7 linked regions of the Homo sapiens genome follow. The protein of the gene in region 4 purifies or fractionates together with the protein of the main gene of each other region. This does not show direct contact. Each region holds a gene or a part of one and is shown on either strand. Other genes may lie near its edges.

Region 1 (3,500 bases), on a different chromosome or scaffold from region 4:
ATGGGGATATATTCCAGTATCCCCATGCCCGTTTTAGGCATATTGATTCCATATTCATCAATAAGCACAAAGCCTGAGCTTATCCATGAAAATAGCAGGGAAAAGAGCTATAAGTTAAGATTTCTTTTTGTTTGTTTGTTTGTTTTGTTTTGTTTGAGACGGAGTCTCGCTTTGTTCCCCGGGCTGGAGTGCAATGGTGTGATCGCTGCTCACTGCAAGCTCCACCTCCCGGGTTCACGCCATTTTCCTGCCTCAGCCTCTGGAGTAGCTGGGGCTACAGGCGCCCGCCACCACTCCCGGCTAATTTTTTTGTATTTTTAGTAGAGACGGGGTTTCACCATGTTAGCCAGGATGGTCTCGATCTCCTGACCTCGTGATCCTTCCGCCTCAGCCTCCCAAAGTGCTGGGATTACAGGCGTGAGCCACTGCGCCCGGCCATTAAGATTTCTTAGTTGTGAAACACCATGAATCCCACCATCATGTGACTTGCCTTGAGAATCTCCCAGAGTCTTGACTATAAACCATAAGCATTATGGGCAGTGCCTTCTTCCCACCCCTTCCACCTCCACACCTTCATTCCTTCCATTCTGTTCTTCCAGGTGAAGTCATGGGCATTGGGCGTTCATTTGAGGAGGCCTTCCAGAAGGCCCTGCGCATGGTGGATGAGAACTGTGTGGGCTTTGATCACACAGTGAAACCAGTCAGCGATATGGTAAGTAGCTCCCCTCCCCTGGCAATACCCCTAAAATAGACCCTGCTTCTCATCGCCCCCAGACCATGAGCTTGTTACCAGTAACACTAGCAGCAGTCATCATTGGACATTTGCTTTGTTTCCACTTTGCTGAGAATTTTGAGATGTCTCATTAGCACGCAAGGGTGTATTACTAGACTTGTTTTTACAGATGAGGAAACTGAGACATAGGTTATAGAAATTACTCAAAGCCACATAGCCAATGAGAGGTAGACCCAGGATTGGTATCCAGGTTTTTGCAGTTACACAGCCTGTGCTCTGGTGTACAGTTTCCCCTTCCTGAGACAAGAGCAGCTACTTACGCTCAGGCTTTTAGATGGGCTGGCAGTAGCTTCCGTCTGTCTACCCCCTTTCTATCAGGAGTTGGAGACTCCAACAGATAAGCGGATTTTTGTGGTGGCAGCTGCTTTGTGGGCTGGTTATTCAGTGGACCGCCTGTATGAGCTCACACGCATCGACCGCTGGTTCCTGCACCGAATGAAGCGTATCATCGCACATGCCCAGCTGCTAGAACAACACCGTGGACAGCCTTTGCCGCCAGACCTGCTGCAACAGGCCAAGTGTCTTGGCTTCTCAGACAAACAGATTGCCCTTGCAGTTCTGAGGTCAGAGGTGGCAATGAGAGCTTCCGGCTGGGAAATGTGGGGCAGAACCTTTGTATCAGTGAGGGACCCTTGGGAGGGAGGAAGGAGAGTGTGGGAGAGCTTTAGAGGCTTCTGACCTTGGTTCCAAGGATATTTCCTCTCATCTGTGCCCTGGGGTCTCAACCCTCTATCAGTCTGTACCCTACTCTCTGGGCCTGTGTTTCAGACCCTTTTTCTATTTTAGCACAGAGCTGGCTGTTCGCAAGCTGCGTCAGGAACTGGGGATCTGTCCAGCAGTGAAACAGATTGACACAGTTGCAGCTGAGTGGCCAGCCCAGACAAATTACCTATACCTAACGTATTGGGGCACCACCCATGACCTCACCTTTCGAACACCTCATGTCCTAGTCCTTGGCTCTGGCGTCTACCGTATTGGCTCTAGCGTTGAATTTGACTGGTGTGCTGTAGGCTGCATCCAGCAGCTCCGAAAGGTCAGAGAGTTCATTTTCTTTCCACTTTCCTTGCTATTCTGTTCATCTCTAGCAATTGCTTGGCACTAATCCTGGCATTTCCTATTAATTGCCGTCCCTTACTTTGGTCATAGAGCTTTGGGGTGGGGGTCCTTTTAGGCCATCTCTCATGCCCCACACGGTATATGAATCTCTTCCCCAACACTTTGTACCTCCTTCCCTCCCAAGGCAGGGGTCCTGTACAGCTCTTTCAGAGGAAGCTGTGCTGGCAGTCTCTGAAGTAGGGGCTTTGGCTTAGTTTCTCCACGATTTTCTCCACGATTTTCCTCCCACCTGACTGCTAAGTACCCTTCCCCTCCCTCTTGCAGATGGGATATAAGACCATCATGGTGAACTATAACCCAGAGACAGTCAGCACCGACTATGACATGTGTGATCGACTCTACTTTGATGAGATCTCTTTTGAGGTGAGGGAGATGGAGGCTTCCTGGTAGCTTGAGTGGCCAGGGTCGAGTAGAACAGCTGGCTGACCTAAGATTCTTTGAAACTTGGTGGCGGCTGAGGGAAGCAGTGAGCAGGAAGGCTCAGATTCCTGCCCTCTTTTGCTGCCACCACTTGTTTCTCCCCCTGCAACGTAGGTGGTGATGGACATCTATGAGCTCGAGAACCCTGAAGGTGTGATCCTATCCATGGGTGGACAGCTGCCCAACAACATGGCCATGGCGTTGCATCGGCAGCAGTGCCGGGTGCTGGGCACCTCCCCTGAAGCCATTGACTCGGCTGAGAACCGTTTCAAGTTTTCCCGGCTCCTTGACACCATTGGTATCAGCCAGCCTCAGTGGAGGGAGCTCAGTGACCTCGAGGTGGGCTGGGACCTGGTGGGTTACCCGGAGGCTGGATGATGCTTGGGGGAAAGTGTGAACAACTCAGCTAAGCTCCCTGCCTCCTGTAGTCTGCTCGCCAATTCTGCCAGACCGTGGGGTACCCCTGTGTGGTGCGCCCCTCCTATGTGCTGAGCGGTGCTGCTATGAATGTGGCCTACACGGATGGAGACCTGGAGCGCTTCCTGAGCAGCGCAGCAGCCGTCTCCAAAGAGCATCCCGTGGTCATCTCCAAGTTCATCCAGGAGGCTAAGGTGGGAGGCTGCAGACAGTGAAGTCTCTGAGGGCATGCTGCCAGCCCTGGAGGAGACTTCCTTCTCTGGTCCAGCAGAATCATAGGCACCAGGGCTGGGAACAGTGGGCTATGTGGGGCTCGTTAAAGGAAGAGACAATCCTAGAGTAAGTGAGAGAAGAAAGTGGCCCTATGTCCCACTGTCTGTGTCCCCCCGCTAGGAGATTGACGTGGATGCCGTGGCCTCTGATGGTGTGGTGGCAGCCATCGCCATCTCTGAGCATGTGGAGAATGCAGGTGTGCATTCAGGTGATGCGACGCTGGTGACCCCCCCACAAGATATCACTGCCAAAACCCTGGAGCGGATCAAAGCCATTGTGCATGCTGTGGGCCAGGAGCTACAGGTCACAGGACCCTTCAATCTGCAGCTCATTGCCAAGGTAATAAGGCTAAAGGAAAGAACTAAAGGGCCACAGCTCTTGCATGTTCTGTGCTGGCCACAGTGCCATGAAGCCCTGCACTGTCTCCTGCCTTCATCCAAGTAGGCAGGGAAGCTGGAGGGAAAGGGCTGTAGCTAGAGCT
Region 2 (3,500 bases), on a different chromosome or scaffold from region 4:
TGCCTGGGGGATAGCTACGGGATGGAAGGACTCAAGCCAAGAGCTGACCTGGGGCCCCGGGAAGGTGTCACCATCGATGTCACTGGCCACCAGGCTGCAGAAACCCCCGGGGACTTCCGGGGCAAGTGCTGCCCTGCGGTCAGAATGCCCTCCCAGGCGGCCCAGCGTGGCCTCTATTCTGGGCCAGGCTCAAGGATATCCCTGCCCGACTCTGGCTGCTGGGACTTGCTCCCCAGGAAATATATCTGGCTTCGGGGACTTTTTAATGTGGCCTCTGGAACCCCCAGTGTCCTAGCTGCACCGAGACCAGCCTCACAAGGCAGGTTTAGAGACCCAGAGTGAGAAAGCGGCCAGGTGGTGGCTGTTGGAGGGCGGTTAGCAGGCCAGAGGCAAGAGCGGTTATTCCATGTTAAAAAGTATCAGAACGATCCATGCTACATTCAACTTCATACTTACAGGGAGCACTTCGTGCCAGTGCTGGGAGAGGAGGAAGGAGCTGTGTGGTCAGCGCCAGCAGGCATTACGTGAGCTGTAAGGTACAGAGTCCCATGCAAAGCGCCCGCAGTCACAAGACGCACCCCGGGAGGAGGGCAGGCCATGGGTCAGGCCCCAGCTAAGGAGCTAGAAGTTTCAACAGGTCAGACCTGAGGGTCTCCCAGCATCTCTGCCTCCTTCCTCACAATGCCCAGCCCACATCCCTCACCAACAATTGTGTATAACACTTGGGAGTCACAGGCCAAAAAGCAGGAACAAGCCCTTTCCATGAGCAGAAACCAACAAGAACTTCCCTGTGGCCACGGTGTCACACACGGGGGCCACCCATGAGCGTGGTGCCTGGAGGAGGGCAGGTTCCAGGGGTCTTTGAACACTGGCTCTTAGTTTTGAGGAGCAACAGAAAACGTGTTTTTGTTTTTGAGATGGAGTCTCGCTCTATTGCCCAGGCTGGAGGGCAGTGGTGCCATCATGGCTCACTGCAACCTCTGTCTCCCAGGTTTAAGCGACTGTCACACCTGTCACTTAAATAGCTGGGATTACAGGCGTGCACCACCATGCACGGCTGATTTTTGTATCTTTTGTAGAGATGAGGTTTTGTCTTGTTGACCAGGCTGGTCTAGAACTCCTGGCCTCAAGTGATCCAACTGCCTCGGCCTCCCAAATTGCTGGGATTATAATTAGGTGTGAGCCACTCCGCCCAGGCTCCAAAAACATGCTCTTGGTGTTGCCCATGAAGGCCCACCTTGGCCACTGCTGCCACGGCCAGATCCTGGCTGCTCATGGCTTAATTGCTGTGTTAGAAATCTGAAGAAACTCCTAACAGCAATCAACAATGACTTTAAACAACTAAGTAGGTTGATTATAAAAGCATTAGACGTAACAACAAAAAGAAGAGAATGCTGTCTGGGAGAGCCTCTTGTGGTCCATAATACAATTAACACTTCATAAATGTCAGGAAAATTTTCAATTACAACCAAAATCTGAGAATTTTCACCCTTCAGAGAGCAACATCATTATTCTAAACAAGACACAGGCTATAAGGTTGGCTAGCAGGACAAAGTGAAATACTTTAAAACTGGAAACCTAACTGGATATAGTGGCACACGCCTGTGGTCCCAGCTACTCGGGAGGCTCAGGCGGGAGCATCGTTTGAGCCCAGGAGGTCGAGGTTGCAGTCAGCTGAGATCGCACCACTGCACTCTAGCCTGGGTGACAGAGCAAGACCCTGTCTCAGAAAAAAAGAAAAAAACTGGAAATCTGATGTGGTCACTGGCTGGGACTTAATTTGAAACCTAGGGTTGACAGACGAATCACAAGTCCCAGTCACCAAGAGAGAGCCCAGTTTCCAGGGGCCCTGGTTTAGGGTATCCCATCTCCTAGACCCTGGGCTCAGAAGGCACATCCCACACATGACACCAAGGTCTCACAGGCAGCCTCTGGGAAGGGACTGTCCCAGGGGACCTCGGGGGGACCAGCTCCCACCCCCAGGGCTCTGTTCCTGCTCTAGCCCTTCCTGAAGAATTCCAGCTACAGACCGGGCGCAGTGGCTCATACCTGTAATCCCAGCACTCTGGGAGGCCGAGGCGGGCTCATCACTTGAGGTCAGGAATTTGAGACCAGCCTGACCAACATGGTGAAACCCTGTCTCTATTAAAAATACAAAATTAGCCGGGCATGGTGGCACATGCCTGTAATCCCAGCTACTTGGGAGGCTGAGGCAACAGAATCGCCTGAACCCGGGAGGCGCAGGTTGCAGTGAGCTGAGATCATGCCATTGCACTCCAGCCTGGGCAACAAGAGCGAAACTCCATCTCAAAAAAAAAAAAAAAAAAAAAAAGAATTCCAGCATTCCAGCTACAGGCACTTTGTCAACCCCAGGATGGCGGCTGAGGCGCACACCAAATCCTCTCCGCCTCCTCCAGGTCACATAGAGGCCCCCCTGCAGCATCGAGGCCTCCCTGGGGACGGAGGTCCATCCAGGTGGGGTTGGGGTGATGAGCGACTGGCCTCAGCCTCTACAAGGGCCCCTAGCCTGCCCCCTGCTTTCCACACCCCACCAGAGTGGCCTTCTGTGAGCTCCCTGAAGCTCCTGGCCCCCGTGGTCTCTCCCTAGAAAAGCCCTCCTCTTACAGCTATCTGGTTCATCTTCTGAACCTCGGCTCAAGCATCCCTTCTCCAGAGAGCTGCCCAGGGCGGCTCAGCCCCCTCCACCACACCCCCTCTAGAACTGTCCTCCACTCCTGCAGAGCCAACGACCCCATTTGCATTGGCACACTTGTTGGCTTGTCTATTTCACTGTTGTCTGTCTGTCCCCATCTAGCCTGGAAGTCCCACGAGGGCAGGGCTGGGCCCAGGGGGCCCAAAGCAGGTATCCAGTTGACAGGCTGGACCCCTCTGGGGACCCACGAGGGCTGGGGTGTGGGTCACATGTGGACACCAGGTCACCACAGACTCAAGCTGGCCAGAGCCCCATTAGAGCCCCAGGTTTGCATCCTCCTGAAGTGGATGCTGAGCAGCCCAGAATCAGGAGTGCCCAGGAGCATGGCCAGCAGCCCCTTCCAAGCCCTGCTGGCCGGTACTTCCTTCCAGTCTCAACTTCAGTGCCACTCCTGGAAGCAGCCTGCCCTGGAGCCCCACACCTGTCCACCTCCCTTCCTCCCTGCAAAAGGGTGGAGAGCCTGGGGGCAGTCACGTGCTGGCCGTCACCTGCCCACGGGGCAGCACAGACTGATTCCGCCCTTCCTGCTAATTCCTCCATGGCGCAGCCATGTGCTGTCATTCCTCCCACTGGGTCAGAGCCTGGACCATCCAGGCTGCCGGCCAAATCATGACCATGCCCACAGGTCCCTCCACCAAATGTGGAGGCGGGTGAGGCTGGTCATGCATCAGAGAGCTGAAGACAGCGTGTCCAGGTGGCTCTCGGGAGCCCTGAACCTGACAGGAAAGGCAGAGGCAGGGCCCGACAAGCACTGCCTGCAGACCTGGCGTGTCACACGGAGGTCAGG
Region 3 (4,237 bases), on a different chromosome or scaffold from region 4:
AGCTGATGCTCCCTGGCTGGCCGCTCCCCAGGAGCTGAGAAGCCTGAAGAGGGCCAGGCACGGAGGAGCAGGAACGAGGACAGTCAAATGTGCCAAGCTTGTCTTTGGTTGTAACTGGTAATGTCCCATGTCTGTTATTCTAGTTCCCCACTATCTTGCAAGGATTGGCAGTAAAGTCCTAGTGATGGACAACGCGGCAGTGGGGAAAGTGACAGCCGTGGCTAGATCATCAGATGTGTCTGTAGAATCCGGTGTGTCCCTGTGAACATCCGCCAGCAGTAACCATTCACATTATTTCAAAAACCTGCATTATTAGGTTGAAAATGGGTAAATCGGGGAAAAAGCCAGCACTTATCCAGCTATTCCTCTGTGAACTAACCCATGCATAACAAACAGATTTTTTTAATGGAAGAATTCCAGCTAGGACCCGAGCAGCTGGGATCTTCACACTGACCGTCCATGCTGTGAACGTAAAAAACAAAAACAAAAAAACAAACCCAAACAGCGCCCGGGAATGGTGGCTCACGCCTGTAATCCCAGCACTTTGGGAGTCCGAGGCGGGCAGATCACCTGAGCTCGGGAGTTCAAGACCAGCCAGACCAACATGGAGAAACCCCGTCTCTACTAAAAATACAAAATTAGCCTGGCGTGGTGGCGCATGCCTGTAGTCCCAGCTACTTGGGAGGCTGAGGCAGAAGAGTCGCTTGAACCTGGGAGGCGGAGGTTGCGTTGAGCCGACTTCGCGCCATTGCACTCCAGCCCGGGCAACAAGAGGGAAACTCCGTCTCAAAAAAAAAAAAAAAAAAACCCAAACAGAATCGGCGGCTCACTTGCCCCCAGACTAACCCAGATCAAGCCCCTGGGTGGAACTGCAGTTTCCAGGATACAACATCCCGGGGTCAGTAAAACCCGGAGGGGTCGCTCCGTGGGAGCCGGAGCCGCGAGGAGACAGTCATGGAAGCGGAGGGGTAGTCCTGACCCCGCGTGGGTCCTGACGCCGAGATTAAGACGAGTGGCCATTTAGGAGGATGTGGACCCTGGACGCTCGTGGTGAGTTAAGGATGAGACGGAGGTAAGGTAAGAAGCGCCGGACTGAGCCGCCCCGAGGCAGCCTTGCTCTGCGGATGGCGGAAAGGGTGCGCCGCCTGTGGAGGCGTCCGATGGGGGCGGGGCTGGGGACCCCGGGAGTCACCAGCATCCCTCAGCCTCGAGCACGAGCCCTCAGCCACCACCGGAAGGAAGACAGGGTTCCCGGAACTCTATTCGGAGGCTCTGCGCAGGCGCGGCCCCCGCCCACCGGCGAACTCACTGGATAGGGCTGAGACGGGGGCGGGTCTTGGCTCCGCCCAGAAGGCTGCGCAGGCGCAGTCCCGACGAGCAACGCGTTTGTAGAGGGGTGGGTGCGCACGCTCTGTCCCTGCGTGACCTTCCGACCCCGCTGTCCTCACCGCAATGGCGGCTGTGAGGGTCCTGGTGGCCTCGAGGCTCGCTGCGGCATCTGCATTCACGTCCCTGTCCCCCGGCGGTCGGACGCCTTCCCAGCGCGCAGCCCTTCACCTCTCCGTGCCGCGCCCCGCGGCCAGGGTCGCGCTGGTGAGTGGACGGAGGGGGTGAGGTCAGCTCCCGCCTCCAGAGATCAGCCTTCGCTGTTCTCTGCCCAAGGTCGGCCCCTCTTCCTAGGTCCGCTCCCGCCGCCCCACGTCGGCTCCTTCACCCCAAGTCAGCTCCTGCGGCCCAGGTCGGCCCCATTTTCCCGGGTCAGCGCCCGCGGCCCAGGTCGGCCCCTTTCCCCCCAGTCAACTCCCGCCGCCCAGGTCGGCCCCTTTCCCCCGGGTCAGCTCCCGCTCCTCTCGCAGGTGCTGTCTGGATGCGGAGTCTACGATGGGACCGAGATCCACGAGGCCTCGGCGTAAGTCCTCAGGGGCAGCTGGTCCTCCACCCCGGGGGCCTCGAGAAGGCCTCTCCACCAGTGAAGTTTACTCTTTTTTGAACAGCTTAGAGAAAGCATGTATTTTATTTTATTTTTACTTTTTGTCTTTTGAGACAGCGCCCAGTCTGGAGTGCAATGGCGCGATCTTGGCTCACTGCGGCCTCCGCCTCCTGGGTTCAAGCGATTCTCCTGCCTCAGCCTTCCGAGTAGCTGGGACTACAAGCATGCACCACCACACCCAACTAATTTGTGTATTTTTGGTAGATACGGAGTTTCACCATGTTGGCCAGGCTGGTCTCAAACTCCTGACCTCAAGTGATCCTCCCGCTTTGGCCTCCCAAAGTGCTGGGATTACAGGCATGAGCCACTGCACCCGGCCGAGAGAGCTTGTATTTTAAATACCCTATTCTTGGCTAAAAAAAAGCAAAAACGACTTGCAAAACCCAGGGAGACGCTAAGAAAGAACAGTTTTTAAGTGTCGCTTATGCTGTCACCTAGAGCCTAGAAATGACTTAGCATTTCACTTGAGTGTTTTTCAGGACACACACATTTTGAAAACACTGAGATCACACTCACCCGTGTTTTGCAAATGTTTCTGACGCATGGGAAGTAATTCCCATTCATTCAGTTCTCAACATCATTTTAACAGTTGCGTGGTATTTCTGGGTCCTAGACAGGTTACTGTTTACGTAACTGGTCAGCTGTTGCTGAGTGCTTGGTGGCCTGATTTCCTGTGCTACTGGAAATGACTGCAGGCCGAACCAGTAGGGCAGGAGGCCACCACGCGTGCCAGGTACCTGTAGTTCCCATGTGGTTCAGGGTGAACTGGAGAGGGGAGAGCTGGGTGGTGGCGAAAGGGGTGTCAGGCCATGGAGAGTGGCCTGAGGCTGGTGGCTTTGTGGGTGGCCCACCTTGGCTGGTTGGAGTTGGCACTAGGCAGAGTGAGCTGGGGGAAAGGGCCAGGATGTGTTTCATGATTTGGCCTTGGTGGGATAGAAAATAGCCCCAGAATAGCTTGAGCCCTCCCAGGCAGAACGGCAGGGTCTTGTGTCTGGGGTGTCTGGGTGGATTTCTTATGGGTAGCGGAACCCAAGTGCCAGGGCCAGGTGCTGACCTCTCCCTCTGGCAAGTCACTGCACTTCATGCCTCGGTTTCCTCCTCCACGTAAGGGGCAGTGAGGGCTTAGTGTGTGGGTGGGCTTAGCCACCTATCTCCTGTTGGCACTGGGAGTTGCGGATGCCAGCGTGAGCCCCCATAATGTCAGCTGTTGTCCCCAGGAGGAGCTTCTGTTGCCCTTGCCCTTGGGGAGATGGAGCTGCCTGGCCTGTGGTGTTGTCCTGGGGTCTCTTGTGTCTCTCCCACCATCTGTGATGGGAAAGTTGAGGGAGACTAGAAATTGAACTAAGTAGTGACCGAAAGCCCCGTCACACCGTCTGTGCACGTGGCACTCTGAGCACACTGCTGCTTCTCACTCTTGGTGCTTGCAGCAAGCAACTGGAGGAGGGCAGCCAGGCCCTGGGTGTAGGTAGAGCACTCAGCAGCCGGGGACCCGCACGCCTCCAGGCTGTGCCCTCAGTGGAGTCACCCGGCCCCCATACCCCAGTTTGCAAAGGGAGCTGTTGGGACCAGCTGATCTCCATAGCCCACTTCTGAGGGTTTGTCATAGTCGTAACCCACCAACCGACAGTGAATTGGAATGGGGGTGTGGGGGACGTTTGGCTTGGTATGGAACCAACTGTAACTTTTTGCAGAGCAAGTAAGATATTAATATACATTAGGAATTTGCTCCTGGTACTTAGCTAAAATCCTGTTTTTAAAAATGTGTTAACACAAATCTGAGTGGGGCACGTTTTGAAGAGTTGTCTCTGGTTTTCCCCCGTGCAGGATCCTGGTGCACCTGAGCCGTGGAGGGGCTGAAGTCCAGATCTTTGCTCCTGACGTCCCTCAGATGCACGTGATTGACCACACCAAGGGGCAGCCGTCCGAAGGCGAGAGCAGGTGTGGGGGTGGGATTGGAACTTGCTTCTTGTCTACCTCCCACGGTGCAGCCTTTTTTTGCTGGCTTAGCTTAAACCAAGTCTTGTGTGCAAATGAACGTCCTTCTGAGCAGCTGTGCTCGGGCTGTTCCAGAAGTAATGCTGCCAAGGCTCAGGAGTGCCTTCCTTCCAGTACTCACAGAAGGACTGAAAATGGCGACCGGATCGCTTCCCACTGAGTCAGGCTGCTCATACCTTGGTCTTAAGCAAAGGTGGTGGTTCTCAGCTTGGTCGCCCACCTTCTTCCCCTGTCTGGGCTCCAGATCTGTTT
Region 4 (3,500 bases):
CCGACGCGGGCAGGGAGAATCATCTTCTGCATCTCAAAGTGGACATCCTTGCAGATGGAGGTGTGCAGGCCTGGGCCACAGATTTAGCTTCGGTCTCTTCTAGAATAGCCCCTCCTAGCCAGAAGTTCAGCTTCTGCTTCCAAAGGGAGCCTGCCCTTGGAAGCAAGCACCTAAAATTGAGAGGTGGGGGAATCTTCCAGCCTGCTCTGTTGTGGTGAACATCGTTGAGGTTAACTGGGCCCTATTCGGTTTAGCTTAGCTGATTTTGACATATGTGTTCAGCAGAGGCCATCTTTAACCCAGTTCCTCTTCTTCCTCTTTGCCCTCTAATGGAAAGGCATCCCTAGAGAGGTCAGAAGGAAAAAGTCAGTATCTGCTCCCACAGCTCTGCGGGAAGGGGCTGGGGAAGGAAATCAAGGTGTCTCCCAGGTCTCCAGATACACCTCCCTTCCATGCCTGGAAGCCAGTGCAGTGGAGCAAATGTGGTTTCCCGGGAGGGGGCTCTGGGGCAGAGACCTAAAGGGGAATTTTGAGAAGCAAAGGAAGAAAAAGCCCCTTAGATTATCTTTAGTAAATGCCTGAATTGGTGAAGGGTTGGAGAATTTGTTTCCTACTGGAGTAATTCATTTTATTTTCCAGCGAGGGAATGTATGTATGTCTCATTTCAGGTGTGCCTGTGCGTGTCTGTAAAGCAGGACAGGAAGCCAGTGGAAGGCTTGATGGTTGGTGTCTGCCATTCTTGGAGGGGTTAGGAGAAGCAGTAAAAGCAACAAGAGTATTTTCAGAAGTGATAGTAGCATGTCCAGCCAAAGCTATCTAATTCTATTAATTGCATTTTAAAATTCAGTTTTTCTATTTCTGCCACGTTGAAGGGTTACTTCAACCACGTTGAACTGGTTACTCCATGCAGGTGGCAGGAGGTAAACTTCGCTTAATATCAAGAAAGTACAGCCTAGCCTTTACATTTCCTCAGATTACCCGACTTTTGCTAAAAGCAATAACGAAAAATCTAATGTTTTCTATCTTTGCTAGTAAAGGATTTCCAGTGGGGTAATTTTTTTAAAACTCATTTAATTTAAAATCTTGTAAGGCATTTTTAGAGTCAGTTTGGAAATTTTAGTTTTTCAGATTTTATCACAATACACTTCTTGAAATCCCTTTCTCTCTCATTCGTAAATCCTTGGATTAGAGTTTGAGACTCCCCTGGTCATTAGAGAAAGACAAAAAGAGCTTTTTCTTACCCTATTCTTTGCCTTTATTAACCCCAAATAACAAAATAATCTGTTATGCAAAAAGATTGCAGGTATAAAAACATTACCTTCCTTTCCACCTACCTAAAACTTCCCTCAGCCTTTGTCAGTTCTAATTTAAAAGCTGTCCTGGAGCTGTTGGAGAAATGGGGAAGATCATCTAGATATTCCAGTTTCTCCTTCCACTCACCCTATAGTACCGGATAGCATCCAATAGCCCAGGGCCTGACCATACAGCCCATGATATTACCCTTTCTGTAGAAAACAGTCACTAAGGCCACTGATGAATGTGGGGGGAGAGGAACACAATTAACAGCTCTGGAAACTCTGGTGACATTTTTCTGTTTTTTCTCTCTCTAGCCCCACCATTGCTCTCTCTGTCTTCAGTTCCCCAGGAGGGCAATGGCATCAAACAGCACAGCTCTGGGGGATGTCAATATTGCATACCTTTTCTACCTAAAGGGAAAATGACTCGCTTTTCTGCTTGCAAATATGGTAGTTTCTGCTTACAAATGTAATACAATGCCCATGACAGCCAAGGACTGGAAGCATAAGTTGCTAGGTCTTACAGGTGATTTTTTACAATGAAGCAAACTCACTATGTTAGACACCATTTACATTGGATGTCTCCAACTAACAAAAGTAACTAAAGACAGATGTAGGTGTAAATTGAGAGTGAAATTTGACCCTTTAGACCGTCACAACTTCCTTGGGCTTATCCTGGGTGCTTATAGGAGAGGTGGGCTCCACCCACAAAAATGGACTGCTCAGAAAAATGAGGGAGAGAGAAAGGGTGGCCACTTTCCCGAGCCAAGAAATTCCTTGAAAAAAAATCAGAACATCTGAAACCAGAGAGCCGATTTCCTTACCGGGAGGCAGTTCCTGGCTAACGAAGAGGAAGCACGATGGGAAGAAAAGTTCACTCCAACGGAAGCCAGTTTGCTGAACATAGCAGATCGCCCAGGAGGACTGGGAGAGACTGCAAACCAGTTCGAGCCCCCAGCATGGCGTTAGGTGTCAGCCAGCTGGCAGGAAGGTCCAGGTGTCTGTGTTCAGAGTCTCAAGGTGAGAAGTTCACTTAGTTGGATTTTAAATACAGCTCAGCATTTACATAGGTGCTTACTAAGTCAACAGTCACATAAAGTAGAGTTCCCAAAGGCAAATGGCCTTCAAACAACCCCAGACTTTCTTGCAAGAGCATGACTTTTCTGGCAAGAGCAAGGCCATGAGCCCTGCCTGGGACCTGGCACTATTCTGAGTGTTGGGGGCATAATGGGGAAAAAGTGGCAGCCACATTAAGATTCATGACCAAGGCCGGGTGTGGTGGCTCACACCTGCAATCCTAGCACTTTGAGAGACTGAGGCAGGCAGATCACTTGAGGCCAGGACAACATGGCAAACTTGGTCTCTACAAAAAATGCAAAAATTAGCCGGGCGAGATGGCATGTGCCTGTAATCTCAGCTACTCAGGAGGCTGAAGCAAGGAGATTGCTTGAGCCCAGGGAAGTCAAGGCTACAGTGAGCCATAATCGTGCCACTGCACTGCAGCCTGGGTGAGAGAGTGACAGTGACAGACCCTGTCTGGGGAAAAAAAAAAAAAAAAGATCCATGACCATAGTCACCACCAAAGGACAGTCTTCCCCATCACAAATCCCAGTAACAGTCCTATTATGGTGATATTATCAATCTGCCCTTTGTAAAGTACTTTTACATACATTATCTCCTACTCCTGCAAGGGACGGGGGAGTGTGGTGGAGGGCTTCTAATGAGGGGTCCTCATTTCCACTAAACTTGGAAAATTGCCTCCCTGTATGAGGATGTGAGAAGGAGGAGGCACAGTGGAGTTGAACTGTAGATGGAGTTATTCTTAAGTAAGTCTGATGAAAATCACACTCCTTTTTTTCTTCCAGACTTTCAAATTGTAAAATAAAGGTGATAAAATGAGAGATTTAGGAATAGAAAATATATTCTTAAATAAGGACATGGGAAAAACAGGTTGAAATTAGTAAGAAACCTCTTATGGAATTACATTCAGTAGGACACAGACACGTTCAATACATTCATTTCATACATTCAAAGGGCATAGGAAAAACAGAATTCATTCATTCAGAATGGCACATTTGATAATGAAATTATTCAGGAGATAGAAATGCAGATTTTAGGCACCTGCTGCTTCAGAGCTGGCAAAACTGACACGCAAATAAGTAGATCCTGGATATTTAGAAGCAGAGGATATTGGAACTTAAAGAT
Region 5 (4,135 bases), on a different chromosome or scaffold from region 4:
CTTGAGAGCTGGCTCCTGCCGGCGGCTTGGGCTCCTCTCTCCCATCCCTACCCCCTCCTTCCAGACCAAATCGCCCCATCTGAGTGGCTTTCTTGTCGCTTCCTATTTTATTTATTTTTCGAGACAGTCTTGCTCTGCTGCCCAGGCTGGAGTGCAGTGGCACGATCTCAGCTCACTGCACCCTCCTGCCTCAGCCTCCCGAGTAGTTGGGATTACAGGCGCACGCCACCAAGCTGGGCCATTTTTTTTTTTTTTTTTTTATTTTTAGTAGAGACCTTGTGATCTGCCCGCCTCAGCCTCCCAGAGTGCTGAGATTACAGGTGTGAGCCACCAGCGCTTGGCCTGTTTCCTATTTTAGAAGGATGCAATTCCAACCTCTGGCCAGGAGAACCTCCCCCTCCCTGCACACGGCCACCTGCTTTTCACTGAGGTCTCAGCTCAAACGCCACCTCCTGGAGGCCTGCCCTGACCACCCCCCATGCATTCACAGGAACCCTGCCTTCTCCTGTCCCCCAGCCCCTGTCTTGCCTTCATCAGACCATCCTTTGATGTCTCTATTTTTGTTGTTTGTTTTTTTTGAGACAGATTCTTCCTCTGTCACCCAGGCTGGAGTGCAGTGGCGAGATCTCGGTTCATTGCAACTTCCGCCTCCCGGGCTCAAGTAATTCTTCCACCTCAGCCTCCCTAGTAGCTGGGTTTACAGACATGCACTACCATGCCCGGCTAATTTTTGTATTTTTAGTAGAAATGGGGTTTCACCAGGTTGGCCAGGCTGCTCTTGAACTCCTGACCTCAGGTGATCTGCCCGCCTTGGCGTCCCAAAGTGCTGGGATTACAGGTGTGAGCCACCACGTCTGGCCATCTGATGTCTCCTTTAACTAGGACATCAGCTCCTAGAGGGCAGGGACTGATCTGTCGTCTACCACTGTCCCCATACCCGGGCAACACCTGGCACGTAGCATGATTTTAGTGAGCAGCTACTGAGTGTAAGGGGTAACGTACAAATAGTTGAGCTGTCTTGGGGCCCTGCCTGGGGCTCAGATTAAAAATCAGCTTAGTCGGCTGGGCGTGGTGGCTCACGCCTGTAATCCCAGTACTTTGGGAGGACGAGGCTGGCGGATCACCTGTGGTCGCCAGGTCCGAGACCAGCCTGACCAACATGGAGAAACCCTGTCTCTACTAAAAATACAAAATTAGCCGGGCATGGTAGCGCATGTCTGTAATCCCAGCTACTCCGGAGGCTGAGGCAGAAGAACTACTTGAGCCCAGGAGGTGGAGGTTGCAGTGAGCCGAGATCGCACCATCACACTCCAGCCTGGGCAACAAGAGCGAAACTCTGTCTCAAAAAAAAAAAAAAAAAAAAAATCAGCTCAGTTTTAGTAAGAGCTCGCCACGCAGGTGCCCTCACCACCTGCCAGGCCCTCTGCCATCTGGTTTTCCTACTGAACCCTCCCCGACCAGGTGTTTTCCAGATGGAGAAACAGGCCCTACCTGCCTTGCTCGGGGGTGTGCAGCCATTTCAGGGCACAGCTGGCCGCTGGGAGAACCAGGACTCAAACCTGGCTCTACGCCGGCACTCACCTCGTCGATCTCACACTGGACCACGGACTCCACGGAGGGGTGCTTCACCACCTCCCGCAGGACACCTCCATCTCCGCCCCCGATGATCAGCACCTGGGAGGAGGGGGCAGTCAAGGCAGGGGCCCTGGCAGGACTGGGAGCCCCCAGGCCCCTGAAGCAGACCCCCTGACCCCTCGGACCCACGGGCCTCATCTTTTTCTACCCTCGGAAACGCTTTCGTGCCGGTGTCCCCTTTCCTGGAAGTTCCTTCCAGGGCTGCCCTAGGATTCCGAGGCCGCGTCAGTGTCGGCCCCCACCCCTCCGCGGGACGCCCCTGGCCTCGCTAGCACTTTCTCTGACAACCATGCAGGCAGCATCTGGGAAGAGCCCGGAGCACACCTGGGGCCGCCCCTCGTCCGGCACTGTTCCAGGGGACACTGGGGTACCTTTCGCGGGTTGGGGTGGCTGCAGAGAGGCAGGTTGGCGATCATCTCCTGGTAGGAGAACTCGTCTCTCTCCGTGCACTGGATGACACCGTCCAACACCAGCACGTTGCCATAGGTCTTACTGCGGGCGGAGTGACAGTCGGGGACCTGGGTTCTCTGGGGTGGGGAAAACGTACCCCAAGCCGCCCTGGGTGAGGAGGGTCTCCCCATCCCGCCTAGGGGTCCCAGGGATGAGGAGCGATGGTGACACGTGGCGAGGAACGGCAGGCGGGCCGCCGGGTGGAGGCCGGGGTGGGACCCGGGGTCTCCTCGGGCTCTGACGTGTCCTGAGGGCTGACACGTGGAGCGGGGCGCAGACTCCGACTCCCCCACCCAAGAGGCCAGCCCGCAGTCCCAGCCCCAGCCCAGGGAGGCGGTGTGAGGGGTGGCGAGGGGGCCAGGGCAGGACGAGGTCCAGCCCGCTTGGGTCCCGGCGTGGAGAGGCCCGTGAGGCGGGCAGCAGGCGGCCCGGGCTGAGCCTAGGGGGCAGGCGCCTGCGGGCAGCGGCGGTACCTGCGGAAGACGAGGATGTCCTGGTAGCGCGAGCGCCGGTGGTGGAGCAGCTGCTCCACCTGCAGTGACAGGGCCTGGCCGGGCCACAGGCTGCAGGTCTCGCGGAACCAGCCCTCGCGGATGGCGGCGGGGCCGGAGGCGGCGGGGCCGTCGGGGCCGGGCTCCATGGCGGGCGGGCGGGCGGCGCGGGGCGCGGGCCCGGGACTGCAGGCCGCGCGGCGCCGCAGCACAACGGGACCAGCTCCGCCCGCCGCCCGCGCCGCAACCTAACCCGGGCGCGGGGCGGGGCCTGCCGGCGGGGGCGGAGCCCGCGCTCGCCAATGGCAAAGCGGCCTCGCCTGGCGCTCATTGGCCACCGGCTCGCAGAGCGGCGCAGAGTGGCTGTGGCGCGCCGTCCGTCGGCGGCAGCAGGGTAGTGCGGCCCGCTCCAGGGGCCACGTGGGGCCCGGCCGGGGCCGGGCGGCCGGGTCGGGTTCCGGGGCGGGCTGGGCCGGCGGAAGGGGTCCGGGTCCTTCCTCCGCCCCAAGCAGCCGGGGCGGTGCACCACCGGCCCCCGCTTCCTTCTCGGGGTTGGGAGGCACCGAGGGCCTCGAGGGGCTGCGGGACTCGGGCTTGGTGTGGAGGGCAAGAGCGCTGCGACGTGCGGACTGGAGAGTCAGCCTTTGGGCTGGAGACACGGGAGCGGGTGGCTACAGTGGTTTACGTTGTTGCACGGGGCGAGTAGAACGTATCCTTCTTTGCGTCCAAAATCTGGTTCCTTGTTGGATTTGAACAGATTATGTGGCTCGTCGGGGCGAACCGAGGGTTTTTATTTACTTGGAAAGAATCATCACAGCCCGCGAATTCACAAGCTGGATTTAGCCATTTTCCCTTAGATTCTGCGCCATGAGCCTATAGGCTGTTGAATACGAGAGAAGTGCTTTTCTAAACGAGTTTCTAAATTTACCAGCAGTGTCCAGGAAGAGGCCCAGAACATACATATTCAGCACCAGAAAAGACTGGCACGCAATTTTTCTTGACAAACTGGGTCTTGCTCTTTGAAGGGTGGGTGGGAATGTGCTGTTTTTATGAGAATGTCAAAGAACTTCTCAGAATCACATTAAGCATGCTAATTACCAAATATTAAATGCTAATTGTTCCACACGCAGTTCGAATGCCAAGGAAGGAAGATGAAACTAGTATAAGCTACTCTTGACATTATGTCAGGGATGGTTTTGACACGTTTTGCAGCCTCCACCTGGAGGTGGGGAACGTTTCCTGTGTCGTCCCCAGAGCAGAGTAACAGCGTTGTTTATGGGTGAGAGCAAGCCTCAAGCCTAGGCAACAATGTGCCTTGCTTGCTTTTAAGCTCCTTCTAAAGGGGAGGTAAACCAAGACCGCTAAAGAATTGCTAGGTGCCTGGGCGTGATGGTTCACCCCGGTAATCCCAGCACTGTGGGAGGCGGAGGCGGAGGCGGGCGGATCACGAGGTCAAGAGATCAAGACGATCCTGGCCAACATGGTGAAACCCCGTCTGTACTAAAAATACAAAAATTAGCTGGGCATGGTAGTGCGCGCCTGCAGTCCCAGCTACTCGG
Region 6 (3,500 bases), on a different chromosome or scaffold from region 4:
CCATTTTATGGTGTTGGGAAAACTGGCTAGCCACATGCAGAAAACTGAAACTGGACCCCTTCCTTACACTTTATACAAAAATTAACTCATGATGGATTAAAGACTTAAATGTAAGACCTAAAACCATAAAAATCCTAGAAGAAAACCTAGGCAATACCATTCAGGATATAGGCATTGGCAAAGACTTCATGACTAAAACACCTAAAGCAATGGCAACAAAAGCCAAAATTGACAAATGGGATCTAATTAAACTAAAGAGCTTCTGCACAGCAAAAGAAACCATCATCAGAGTGAACAGGCAACCTACAGAATGGGAGAAAATTTTTGCAATCTATCCATCTGACAAAGGGCTAATATCCAGAATCTACAAGGAACTTAAACAAATTTACAAGAAAAAAACACTCAGCCCTATCAAAAGGTGGGTGAAGGATATGAACAGACACTTCTCAAAAGAAGACATTTATGCAGCCAACAAACATGAAAAAAAGCTCATCATCACTGGTCATTAGGGGAATGCAAATCAAAACCACAATGAGATACCATCTCACACCAGTTAGAATGGCGATCATTAAAAAGCCAGGAAACAACAGATGCTGGAGAGGATATGGAGAAATAGGAATGCTTTTACACTGTTGGTGGGACTGTAAATTAGTTCAACCATTGTGGAAGACAGTGTGGCGATTCATCAAGGATCTAGAACCAGAAATACCATTTGACTCAGCAATCCCATTACTGGGTATATACCCATAAGATTATAAATCATTCTACTATAAAGACACATGCACACATATGTTTATTGAGGCACTATTCACAACAGCAAAAACTTGGAACCAACCCAAATGCCCATCAATGATAGACTGGATAAAGAAAATGTGGTACATATACACCATGGAATACTATGCAGCCATAAAAAAGGATGAGCTCATGTCCTTTGCAGGGACATGGATGAAGCTGGAAACCATCATTCTCAGCAAACTAACACAAGAACAGAAAACCAAACACCACATGTTCTCACTTATAAGTGGGGAGTTGAACAACGAGAACACATGGACACAGGGAGGGGAACGTCACACACTGCGGCCTGTTGAGGCTGTGGGGGTAGGGGAGGGATAGTACTAGGAGAAATACCTAATACAGATGACGAGTTGATGGGTGCAGCAAACCACAATGGCATGTGTAAACCTATGTAACAAACCTGCACGTTCTGCACATGTACCCCAGAACTTAAAGTATAATTAAAAAAAAAGAAAAAACAAAAAAGCAAAACGATACTTTTTCTTTTCCTTGAAGTCGTTGGATTGCTCAAACAAGCAAACTAACTAAAATACAATTTCAATTCAAAATAGCATTTATTAAATGACTAGACATGTAAAAAATATTTTACTCTTTTATTGGTAGGTGTTTTCTGTAATGGCCACAAATGCTTTTGGAATTAGGCAAAATATAAATAAAGCTGTATAACAGACTTCACAAAATTTGATAAACAAAAATTATAGGTTGTCTCCACTCTTTTGCTGCAATATATTCCTGAACTGAAAAGTAAAATGAAGAAAATGATTTCTTTTCACTGGGCAGTTTAAGAAAACCAAGAGCTTCAGACTGTCCTTTTTTACCATTAGATGGCACTGGCCTGTCAGTAAGGCAAACTGCAGGAACTACCAGAAATTAACCGACAGGCAATTCCAAGGTCTAAAGTGGGAAGCAGGCGTTTCATTGGTCTCAAATAAGTGGATCAGCAAAATTGAAAAGAGTGAAAATCAAGGGCTTTAGAAAGTTATATGTACAGTTTTGCAGGATTATATCTCTGAAATGAGGTAAATCTTAATTTACATTTCTTGTTTTTTTCCTTTCTAGAATGATTCTAATTTGCAGTGAAATTAATTATCTAGTTCCAGAAGTTCGGACCTTATTGATGACTCACTGTAGCAAACTGCTGTAAGGGGAATTCACGATGATGCCTCTGGGTTGACAGACAGGCATTTGGTGCCAGGTGAACCTGGGTTTGATTCAGTTTCACCCATTATTAACTTTCATTAAATCCAGTGACTGGCACACAGCGGATATTCAAAAAATGTCAAGTTCTTGTCCTTATACTCCTTTCTCCACTGTAAGCTCCAGGATTGCAGGGGGCAGTTCACATGTCCTTAGAAGACTGTTGGTCATATAGTAGACGCCCAATTTGTGACTGCTAAATGCATAAAATTTAAACAAAAATTTACTACTCGGCCAGGTGCGGTGGCTCACGCCTGTAATCCCAGCACTTTGGGAGGCTGAGGCGGGCCAGGTCAAGAGACCAAGACCATTCTGGCCAACATGGTGAAACTCTGTCTCTACTAAAAATACAAAAATTAGATGGGCGTGGTGGCGTGCACCTGTAGTCCCAGCTACTCGGGAGGTTGAGGCAGGAGAATCGCTGGAACCTGGGAGGCGGAAGCTGCAGTGAGCCGAGACTGCACCACTGCACTCCAGCCTGGTGAAAGAGAGAGACTCCATCTCAAAAAAAAGAAAAAAAAAAAAAAAGAAAAAAAAATTACTACTTAACCTATCTGGGCATTAAATAATTCTCTTAAACACATGAAATCCATATCATTATTCCAGCTTTTCTAAACACAGAAAGATACTTTAACTCACATTTTTAAAGAATACGTCCGTGCCCAAGGCATTTAGCTAGTTTATAGATAAAAGATACAAAGATCTTGCTCTGAAGAAGCTTACAGTTTAATAGGAGGATCAAACTACTATGAGGTAGGAAACCTTAATTGTATAACTGACGGCTATAAAAATAGTTCTGGGGAACTCAGAAAAGGCAAGATTACTTCCTTGCGGGGAAATCAGGAGAGGTTTAGCAAGGAGATAGCAATGGGCTTGGCCTTGGAAATGGAAGATAATCTGTTTCTGTGCATACAGGAGGAAGGAAAACGCACAGATGAGGGACTCCATGTGCCAGAACATGGAGATATTTGGACAAAAAATGAGAAGTAGTGCAGTTTGGCACCTAGAACTATACGATGGTGGCAAGTAGAAAATAAGGACAAAGCGTTGAGCTGAGGCTCTTCACTGATCTTATAAGGAGTGGAGAGTCGTTGCCAGCTTCTGATTAGGGAGACTATGTCGCTAGTGATTCTGAAGATTTTTTGGCAGTACTGTGCAAGATAAAAGGCAGGAGACAGTTCAGAGATTAAATTACTAAGTCAGGGAGATGGAATGAGGAACAGTATCAGGGGAATGGCAATGAGATAGACAGGTAGAAGTAGGAGTCTTTATGGGGACAAAAATCCTTGGCAATGCCCTGTGTGGGGATAATAGGGAAGGAGTCAGAGGGTGCCAACGTTTTCAGTCTGAGTGGCTAGAAAGATGCAATTTCCAGAAGACAGATTGTAGACATGTTAAGCTTAGGTCCTGGGGAAAGTATCTGAGTAGGGCGGAGAGATGCTACATAACAGAGAGCAGGGCAGTGCGGCTCAATGACGAGCATGGATTGCCTGGCCACTGGGGACATT
Region 7 (3,500 bases), on a different chromosome or scaffold from region 4:
GACGGGCACGGTGGCTCATGCCTGTAATGCCAGCACTTTGGGAGGCAGAGGTGCGTGGATCACCTGGGGTCAGGAGTTCAAGACCAGCCTGGCCAACATGGTGAAACCCTGTCTCTACTAAAAATACAGAAATTAGCCAGGCGTGGTGGTGCATGCCTGTAATCCCAGCTACATGGGAGGCTGAGGCAGGAATCGCTGGAACCTGGGAGGCGGAGGTTGCAGTGAGCCGAGATCATGCCATTGCACTCCAGCTTGAGTAACAAGAGCAGAACTCCATCTCAAAAAAAAAATTATTTTTCCTCTAGTAGGTATAAAATAATGTGTTTTGTTTTACTTCATATGTATTTTATTTATATTCTTTTCTTTATTTTTTGAGACGGGGTCTCCCTCTGTCACCCAGGCTGGAGTGCAGTGGCACGATCTTGGCTCACTACAACCTCCACCTCTCGGGTTCAAGCAATTCTCCCGCCTCAGCCTTCCAAATAGCTGGGACTACAGGCGCATGCCACCACGCCTGGCTAATTTTTTGTATTTTAGTAGAGACGGGGTTTCACCATGTTGCCCAGGCTGGTCGCGAACTCCTAAGCTCAGGCAATCTGCCTGCCTCAGCATCCCAAAGTGCTGGGTTTACAGGCGTTAGCCACCGCGCTCAGCCTGTATTCATTTTTTAATTGACAGAAATTGTATTTATGGTACGCAATATGTTTTGAAATATATATACATTGTGAAATGGCTAAATTGAGGTAATTAACAAATTTATACCTTACGTACTTACCATTTTCTGTGGTGAGAAGAGTTAAAATTTAAATCAGGTGCAGTGGTATGCACCTGTAGAGCCAGCTACTTGGGAGGCTGGGACCTCAGGAGGCTTGCCTGAGCCCAGGAGCTTGAGCCTGTAGAATGCTATGATAGCACCTGTGAATAGCCTCTACACTCTAGCCTTGGCAACATAGCAAGGCTCTGTCTCTTAAAAAAATCTACACAGCAATTTTCAAGTATAAAATACATTGTTATTTCCTATAGTCACCATATTGTACAATATAGCTCTTGAATTTATTTCCATATATTTTTGATTACTAGCTTCTCAGGGCTTAAAATATTAACATAGTTTTAATTCTAATGGTCACAATGAATTACTTCACCTTTTATATTGATTTTTTTCTTATGCAGGAAATTCTTGGTGCATCACTTTCTGCACCTTTAACATCATACAAGGTGATCTATGTTCTCCCAATGCTAACTATTAAGGAGGATAAAGGTAAAGAGTTTATTTATTTCTAGAAATATTTTGATAAACACATTTTGGTTCTAGTTATTAATTCCACACTTTGTTTTCTAAGGCACTGGTGTGGTTACAAGTGTTCCTTCCGACTCCCCTGATGATATTGCTGCCCTCAGAGACTTGAAGAAAAAGCAAGTAAGTATCTGAGTTTCATGTTTGTATTTCGTCCTCACCATCTCATTGCTTAGGTGCTGCTGAACTACGCTGTGGGACTAGGCTAAAAAGCTATGCATTTATCTTTAAACTGCTATCTCTAACTTGTTTCTTGATGTTAATATATTTTCTGTGGTTTGAATTTTAAATATGTTCACAGAATTTTGAAAAAGCTTTCTGATATTCACATTTTCATTGAAATCTGGCATATGAACCTCAATTTAAGTGATATGTGTATGTCTATGTACATTTTTGCTTTTGGTTGTGTGGTTTCATTTAGGCTATTCACTATAACTTTAGCTATTAAATTTTTGAAGGTTACAGATCCCTTTTGAGATATTTGGCAAAGTTAGAAAATTGCTCTCTATGGAGAGGAGAACAAATAGAAACTTTAAAGAAACTTTTAAGAAACTTTGGAGATTGCTTCTCTCAATGATTCTCCCAGTAAAGTGTTGATCATTAGTGTTAACTTGCAAATTTTTCTGTAGGCCTTACGAGCAAAATATGGAATTAGAGATGACATGGTCTTGCCATTTGAGCCGGTGAGTACATAGATAATTCAGAATATTCACATCCATCTCTTTATCAGAGAAAAAGAAGAGCTAACATGTTTTCCTTATAACAAAATTAATTGGTGGAGTATGAAAAAGAGAGTTTGCTTAAGGATTTACTCACTTTAATTTGATACCTGCTATGGTAGATAAGAGCAAAAGGAAAACTAACAAGCATTTTCTTACCACCTGGCACCTGCAGTTCTGGAACAAATAGCTTTTTAGCATCACCAATTTTATAGTAGCTTGCTTTGCTAGTGTGATCAATTTCCTGGCTTCTAAAGATAAAATTTTGCCCTTTTCATGAATGTTTATATGTAACCATAATAACTTTAACAAAGTCCTGTACAACTCTGTTTTATGTTTCTTGTATTTTCATGTTAGTATCTATAGAAGAAAAACTTTTAAATTACTAGCAAATGATTTTCATTTCATGAAAGATCCAGAGGAATTAATATAAACCAAAAGCACAACCATCCATGAATCTAGTTGTTTACATCAGCAGGCCCCAACCTTTTTGGCACCAGGGACTGGTTTTGTGGAAGACAATTTTTCCATGGACCAGCAGGGTGTGGTAGGGGAATGGTTTTGGCATGAAACTGTGCCACCTTAGATCATCAGGCATTAGATTCTCATAAGGAGCAAGCAACCTAGATCCCTCCATGCACAGTTCACAATAGGGTTCGTGCTTCTATGAGAATCTAATGCCACCCATGATCTGACAGGAGGTGAAGCTCAGGGGGTGATGCTCGCCCGTTCCTCACCTCCTGCTGTGCAGCCTGGTTCCTAATGCCATGGACTGGTACCGGTCCACATCCTTGGGGTTGGGAACCCCTGGTTTACATCATTTTGCTAGTTTCAGTATGAATTACTTAGGTAATTATATGCCAGTGGAGGATAGAGTGTTGGGAAAGGTGTGTGTGGTGGGGGAAGGGCATTGGGGGTGTTGGTACACAGAGTATGGGTGGTTCCTGTGGAGAGTAGAAGGACAAATTTACATCTGGAAGTTAGTCACTCTGTGATTACTTAATGTGTGGCAGTGTCGTAATGACATATACAATCTGAAATGACTTAATTGGACATTAGAGGCAAAAGGACTTGTGCCCTACAGAGCTGTGTGTCCAGTCAGTGTGAACACGTTCCTGATTGCTGTTTGCTGCAGGTGCCAGTCATTGAAATCCCAGGTTTTGGAAATCTTTCTGCTGTAACCATTTGTGATGAGTTGAAAATTCAGAGCCAGAATGACCGGGAAAAACTTGCAGAAGCAAAGGAGAAGATATATCTAAAAGGATTTTATGAGGGTGTAAGTAATAATTTTTTTTAGTTTTTATTTGCTTTACTCCATGCTCTGTGATTTTCTTAATTAGAAAAAATGTAGAAAAATTTAACATAGTTTCAGCTATACATTGATTTGAGAGCTTAATATGAGAATGTATTCTATTTCCAAATTTCTAATTTTTGTTTTTATCATGTCCTTTGCCTAAAAGCATTTTCAGAAATTGTCTTTTTCGTGC

The links.
Region 1: the proteins of DUSP4 (region 4) and CAD purify together in Homo sapiens (affinity purification with mass spectrometry; one large-scale study listed by BioGRID and IntAct). This does not show direct contact.
Region 2: the proteins of DUSP4 (region 4) and ACOT7 purify together in Homo sapiens (affinity purification with mass spectrometry, with the first as the bait; one large-scale study listed by BioGRID). This does not show direct contact.
Region 3: the proteins of DUSP4 (region 4) and GATD3 purify together in Homo sapiens (affinity purification with mass spectrometry, with the first as the bait; one large-scale study listed by BioGRID). This does not show direct contact.
Region 5: the proteins of DUSP4 (region 4) and SRM purify together in Homo sapiens (affinity purification with mass spectrometry, with the first as the bait; one large-scale study listed by BioGRID). This does not show direct contact.
Region 6: the proteins of DUSP4 (region 4) and DSG2 purify together in Homo sapiens (affinity purification with mass spectrometry; one large-scale study listed by BioGRID and IntAct). This does not show direct contact.
Region 7: the proteins of DUSP4 (region 4) and LARS1 purify together in Homo sapiens (affinity purification with mass spectrometry; one large-scale study listed by BioGRID and IntAct). This does not show direct contact.

Annotation. Positions count from the first base shown.
Region 1 is NC_000002.12:27,230,869-27,234,368, forward strand, and holds part of CAD (multifunctional protein CAD), read left to right. Parts: intron 1-599; coding exon 600-712; intron 713-1,111; coding exon 1,112-1,356; intron 1,357-1,579; coding exon 1,580-1,826; intron 1,827-2,173; coding exon 2,174-2,272; intron 2,273-2,443; coding exon 2,444-2,668; intron 2,669-2,757; coding exon 2,758-2,940; intron 2,941-3,139; coding exon 3,140-3,358; intron 3,359-3,500. UniProt on the Homo sapiens protein: Multifunctional protein that encodes the first 3 enzymatic activities of the de novo pyrimidine pathway: carbamoylphosphate synthetase (CPSase; EC 6.3.5.5), aspartate transcarbamylase (ATCase; EC 2.1.3.2) and dihydroorotase (DHOase; EC 3.5.2.3).
Region 2 is NC_000001.11:6,282,268-6,285,767, forward strand, and holds part of ACOT7 (cytosolic acyl coenzyme A thioester hydrolase), read right to left. Parts: intron 1-3,500. UniProt on the Homo sapiens protein: Catalyzes the hydrolysis of acyl-CoAs into free fatty acids and coenzyme A (CoASH), regulating their respective intracellular levels.
Region 3 is NC_000021.9:44,132,246-44,136,482, forward strand, and holds the start of GATD3 (glutamine amidotransferase-like class 1 domain-containing protein 3, mitochondrial isoform 1 precursor), read left to right. Parts: upstream 1-1,437; 5' UTR 1,438-1,452; coding exon 1,453-1,593; intron 1,594-1,856; coding exon 1,857-1,909; intron 1,910-2,664; exon of another isoform or gene 2,665-2,723; intron 2,724-3,814; coding exon 3,815-3,928; intron 3,929-4,237.
Region 4 is NC_000008.11:29,344,185-29,347,684, reverse strand, and holds part of DUSP4 (dual specificity protein phosphatase 4), read left to right. Parts: intron 1-1,610; exon of another isoform or gene 1,611-2,155; coding exon of another isoform or gene 2,156-2,315; intron 2,316-3,500. UniProt on the Homo sapiens protein: Regulates mitogenic signal transduction by dephosphorylating both Thr and Tyr residues on MAP kinases ERK1 and ERK2.
Region 5 is NC_000001.11:11,057,219-11,061,353, forward strand, and holds the start of SRM (spermidine synthase), read right to left. Parts: upstream 2,801-4,135; 5' UTR 2,726-2,800; coding exon 2,559-2,725; intron 2,128-2,558; coding exon 2,007-2,127; intron 1,675-2,006; coding exon 1,582-1,674; intron 1-1,581. UniProt on the Homo sapiens protein: Catalyzes the production of spermidine from putrescine and decarboxylated S-adenosylmethionine (dcSAM). Has a strong preference for putrescine as substrate, and has very low activity towards 1,3-diaminopropane. Has extremely low activity towards spermidine.
Region 6 is NC_000018.10:31,504,677-31,508,176, reverse strand, and holds part of DSG2 (desmoglein-2 preproprotein), read right to left. Parts: intron 1-3,500.
Region 7 is NC_000005.10:146,151,651-146,155,150, reverse strand, and holds part of LARS1 (leucine--tRNA ligase, cytoplasmic), read left to right. Parts: intron 1-1,170; coding exon 1,171-1,258; intron 1,259-1,340; coding exon 1,341-1,417; intron 1,418-1,923; coding exon 1,924-1,977; intron 1,978-3,148; coding exon 3,149-3,289; intron 3,290-3,500. UniProt on the Homo sapiens protein: Aminoacyl-tRNA synthetase that catalyzes the specific attachment of leucine to its cognate tRNA (tRNA(Leu)).